2 separate regions of the Homo sapiens genome follow, and region 1 is linked to region 2. A link means that fine-mapping ties the variant in region 2 to the expression of a gene that starts in the linked region. Tissue or cell type: whole blood. Region 2 holds a variant in brackets; the other region holds the start of a gene. All regions are shown on one strand. Distances are from middle to middle.

The links. PIP is the estimated chance that this variant, and not a neighbour inherited with it, causes the effect.
Region 1: it holds the start of PRKD3, and the variant in region 2 is fine-mapped to the expression of PRKD3 in whole blood (TOPMed, PIP 0.97).

What each region holds. Positions count from the first base shown.
Region 1 is chr2:37,323,226-37,325,926 of GRCh38, reverse strand. It overlaps PRKD3 (protein kinase D3), which reads left to right and starts at 1,094. Exons shown (of 19, transcript NM_005813.6): 1 at 1,094-1,246. PRKD3-DT (PRKD3 divergent transcript) reads right to left here and starts at 846. Exons shown (of 2, transcript NR_183394.1): 1 at 405-846. RefSeq lists a silencer at 734-1,363 and an enhancer at 2,004-2,083.
Region 2 is chr2:37,231,670-37,234,290 of GRCh38, reverse strand. It overlaps NDUFAF7 (NADH:ubiquinone oxidoreductase complex assembly factor 7), which reads right to left. Exons shown (of 10, transcript NM_144736.5): 1 at 2,531-2,621; 2 at 2,025-2,185. The coding sequence starts at 2,585. Among named protein-coding and RNA genes, the nearest start is that of NDUFAF7, 1.3 kb to the right of the region's middle. RefSeq lists an enhancer at 2,151-2,621. The variant T/A (reference allele first, on the strand shown) is at 1,345.

The DNA of each region.
Region 1 (2,701 bases), 92 kb before region 2:
GGTGGCACACGCCTGTAGTCCCAGCTGCTTGGGAGGCTGACGCAGGATAATCACTTGAGCCCAGCAGCTCCAGGCTGCAGTGAGCTATGATCGTGTCACTGCACTTCAGCCTGGATGACAGAGTAAAACCTTTTCTAGAGAGAAAGAAGAAAGAGAGAAAGGGGAAAAGAAAGAAAAAGAGAGAAGAAAGAAAACTGCCCTCTTGATTGTAGTCCCTCTGATTGTTTCAATATATTTAAGTACTTTTGGGATAAAATGTTGACATAAGGAGAATCATGTGGCTTCTGTGACAATGCCTGTCAGCTTCTCAGGCCTTTCTCTCACATAAGACATCGAAAATTTATGCACAGTGTATTTTCCCTCTAGATCCTTATGCTGCTGACTCCCACTCCCGCCCCACTCACCCGACACGGTCATACTTTGTTTTGGAGCAAAACAAATGTTAACATTGTGTTTCCAGACACCTGGAAGCCCAGGTTTGGTGATTCTGGACTGCACTCCACTTTGGTGGTAGGGTCACATTCGCGTTTAAAGGCCGACGGGGAGGAAACACCGAGCACCGGGAAAACCCCTGCAGTCACCGGAACGTCGGGCTTGGGACGTGCCGGTTTGGGCGCCGAGCTGCGGTGCCGGCGGCCACCCCGGGGGCAGGCAGCAGGGAGGAGCATGCGGGAGGGCTGTGACATCTCAGGGTGGAAGCAGCTCTCTGCTCTGGACGCCTTACAAGTCCCCCGTTCCAACTATCACCTCTGGCCCATTGTCGCCACCGCCTCCCTCAAGAGTGCACGGCAGTAGAGGAAAAGACAGTACCGTCGGCAACAGCGCGATCAAGTACCGCGTGTAACTGATAGACACGCTCGCGACTCCCGCGGCGCCCCTGCCCCGTGCCCCCGCGCTCACGAAGACGCCCGGAACTCGAGGGTGCGGAGCCAGCCCGACTGTACCCGGCGCTCCCGGCGCCCCTTCGCGGGGCAGAGACAACCCCGACCTCCCGCCGCGGCCACCTCCCGGCGGGCGCGGGCCGAGGAACTACAGCTCCCGGCAGGCCCCGCGCTGGCCGCGCGCCCCCGCCCCCCGCGCGCCCCGGCCCCCCGCCCTCCGGCCCCAGGACGGGACGGGGAGGGAGGGAGGAAGGGGCGCCGGAGGCGGGCGGGATCCTGCGAGGCGCGTGAAGCCTCGCTGGCGCCTCGTCCGGTACTCAGACGCTGGCGGGCGCAGTTTCTCACGACGGGCCGAGCCTGCCACTGTAAGTAGTCGCCTCGGGGAGCGCTGAACAGACACCGAAAAAGTTCGCGCCGCCGCCGCCGCCGCTTTGTTCTCCCGGCCCGTCGGGCTGAGGCGGCGGCGGCCCCTCCCCCATCCCCCAAACCCCCAACCCCCCAACTGCACGCGGCGGCGGCGGCGACAGGACTCGGACCCCGCGCCGGGCTGGGCGGTGTCAGCCGCGCTGGGCGGGAAGTTGGGGGAGCGCGCGGCGGGAGGTGGGCGGCTGAGGGGGAGCGGGGGCGCCGCCGCAGCCGCCAGAGGGGCCAAGTTCCGGCGTCCGCGCGGAGGGCAACTTGGGTTCGCGCTCCGCTGGAGACCACCGCGCCCGGCCCATCGGAGGCGATCCGTTCCCGGGTCTCCCAAACTAGTTCCCGAAGCCAGACCCGCGGCGCTCGCAGTGCCGAATTTTGGACCAGCTTTTTCGTTTCATTTCCTCACTTTGCGTTGTAGTCGTCTCAAAGGGGTGAGTAAATGGTGCTTGGAGAATGTAAGCCCCTCGCCCCAGTATCCCGACTGCGTTTGGATTTGCTAGTTGCAGCATTGTTCCGAGTTGCTCCCTCCTGGGAGGTTTTCCTTAAGCTGAAACACTGAGGAGTGCCACTGTTTCTTTGAGCAGTGAAAATAACCATATACTACTGTATTGCCGGTTGGGTATTTTATTTCAGGTGAACGCAGTCAGAGGCATAGGCCTTGCCGTCTGCAGGCACACATACGATTCAAGCGACAAGTGTGTGCGCGCGACCTGCCGACTTTTCCACACACAGATTGATGGCATGGACGTAACTGTGTCTTCAATCACACCCATCCCCACAGGAAATAAGACTATCGGTGTCATCTTTGATTAGGAAGGATAAGTTACACCCTGAACTGCTGCTTGGTGCGACACAGCTTTTATGAGACATAGCCACAAATGGAACAAGAACTTTTAAATGCCTTAATTTGTATCCTAGAAAATGTTATTTTATTCCTCTGAAACTTTTTTTTTACCCTTCTACTTAATGTCGTCGTTCTTACATTTTTAGCGATTTTCATTTTCCTTAGCTTTGCTGCAGAAGGCGTCCATAAAGTTCCCCCGACTGAGATCTAGGCCAGTTTTTCCTTGTCAACGAACCCTTGCTTCCTTCCCTGTTAGATTCCGAGTTAAGATCAAGCATGGACATTCAGCCAAGAAGTTAGAAGATTTTCTAAAAGTAGGATTTGAAACGTGTCACACAGAAACCGTGGAAGGTTTTTCTTCAGTAGGTAGTAATACAGTTGTGGTGGGCCTGAGTGCATGAGCTTGGAGTACTCCTTGACGAGCCAGGTTCCATCCTCGGTTCTATAATTTAGTATATAGCATTTCACATTTCAGGGTGACTCAGGTTCTGTAATTTAGTATATAGCGTTTCACATTAAGAATGTTGACTGATGTGTATCTTAAAACTAATTTTTTAAG
Region 2 (2,621 bases):
GCAAAACCCGATCTCCATTGAAAATACAAAAAACCTAGCTGGGCATGGAAACATACACCTGTAATCCCAACTACTCGGGAGGCTGAGGCACAAGAATCCTTTGAACCTTGAAGGTGGAGGTTGCAGTGAGCCAAGATTGCACTACTGCACTCCAGCCTGGGTGACAGAATGAGACTCTATCTCAAAAAGCCAACAAACAAAAAAGCCCATAATCAAGCCAAAGACCCAATAATTAACAAAATTTTGAAGTAAGGATGAGCACGATGAAATCCTGAGATGCCTGTGATCACTGTATTGTGATAAGGAAATACCAATGATTTCCACAGATGACAAAGTCACAGGTATTGCTGATGCTACTAGTTGCTGCGTATGTTCATAATTGAAGAAATGCTAAATTTCAGTTGAAAGTTAGTGAAAATAAAGGTATAATATTTTTTCCATCCAGCTTCATGAAACCCCTGATTTCTATTAAAGGGTCCCTAGGTTAAGAGCCTCTACATTTTAGAGTTACCCCTACTCTCAATGCTGGGAAACCTTCCTTTCTCTCAGTATGTTCTCCCTGGTTCCTTGGCTTTAAATATGACCTATATGCTGATGACGAGCAAATGTATATATGCCTGCCCAGTCTTTCTTCTGAACACCAGGCTCACTTTTTTTTTTTTTTTTTTTGAGACAGAGTCTCGCTCTGTTGCCCAGGCTGGAGTGCAATGGCGAAATCTAGGCTCACTGCAACCTCTGCGTCCCGGGTTCAAGCGATTCTCCTGCCTCCTGACTAGCTGGGATTACAGGCACAAGCCACCACGCCCGGCTAATTTTTGTATTTTTAATAGAGACGGGGTTTCACCAAGTTGGTCAGGCTGGTCTCAAACTCCTGACCTCGTGATCCACCCGCCTTGGCCTCCCAAAGTGCTGGGATTACAGGCGTGAGCCGCCACGTCCGGCCCTGAACGCCAGACTCTTACAGCGAATTGCCTACTTTCTATCTCCACCTGCATGTCACTGCTAACAAAATATGTATAAAATGCAGCTCCTGGTGTAGGCCCTCTCCCTAGTACTCCTCCAAACCTGGTCCTGTCTGTCTTAATCTCAATAAAAGGTACCATCATCACCCAACTGCTCAAGCTAAAAGTACGAATCAGCCTTGATTCCTCCGTTCCATCACTCAATCCATCGGCAAATCCTGTCAGTCCCTTTCTAAATCACCCTCTTCTATTTCTAGTACCACCACACTAGTCTAAGCCACCTATCTTGCAGCCCTGCCTAACCGGCATCGAAAGAAAGATACCGGCCTTGGGTAAACCTCGACACTAGAGTCACACTACCATATCCAACAACAATGGCCAA[T/A]CTAACCCCAGAATTCCACAGAGGTCATATTTCAACCCAGCAAAAGATGAAATATTCTAAAATAAAGGACTATAGGCTTTCACCAAATGGCTCTGTAGAACAGACAAGGAAACGTGGGTCAGAAAGCTGTGACTGTGCCTAATCCTAGAACAGTGAAGACGACCCAGACTGCATTCTCAACTGCACATGTGAGAAAACCCAGCACATGTCTCCAATGCCAGCTGAAGCCATTCCAACACAGACGACTTTCCAGGCAGTAATTCCTATTTCCAGCTGCCTGTTGGAGATTTCTACCTAAGAGTCCCACACACTTCAAATTCATATACCAGCCTGAACTCTCCATCCTTCCTCCCGTATTCCTTCTCCCAAAGCAATGAATCCACACCACCCACCATCAGCCAAGTAGGAAAGTCATCCTTCCCGCATCATAAATCCAATCAGCTACATTCTGTCTCCTAAACACCCTTGGACCGTGTCCTCTCCTCTTTACTGGCACTGCCTCTGACGTGAGCCAGCCCTGACCAACTGACAAATTATCTGTCCCCAGGTCCTCAGAAATGGCTCTTCCCCTGGCAGGCACCCCCACTGCCTGGGCTGAGAACCTTCGGGCTTCTCCCTCCTGGCTTGCACCTCGCAAATCGGCTAGAGAGGGCCTAGTCCTCGGGCTACCCGACCCATACCTTGGCTGGATTAGTCAACACCTCCTTCATGTACTCGGCCACAGTGATGGGACCAGTAGACTTTATTTTGTACATAAGATGCCGCAGCATCGGCGTCACCGGGTTTTCTGCAGGCTCATTCCCGGAGCTGAAGTATTTCCCTCTCCAAATAAAAGGAATGGCTGCGAAAAACACAAATTAAACAGACCCCATGATAAATCTGACCATTCACGAGCGCAAGCCGCCTGAGCGTTTTCAAAACAGCTTCGTGAACCCTTAACCTCGCCCCACCGCAGACCGCGGGCTACTGTGCTTAGCACGCCCACGGGGCGCAGAGACAGCACCCACTTGCCCACGACTACGCAGCCCTATTGCGTTTGTACCGGACCCGTTTCCAGCCCAGGGTACCTTCAAGGTGGAAGTGAGCCCCCGAGCCCTTGATCCCCCGGTACCCTCAACTGAAGAGCTGAGGAAGGCGCCCCACGCGGCTTCCACGGCAACCGGGCTTCGAGGGGACTGACGCTTACCTGCGCGCGCCACGGCACACAACGGCCCCAAACCTGACCTCAGCAGTACACTCATGCTGAAATTCGCAGGCTAGCTCGCTCCGCCAGGAGC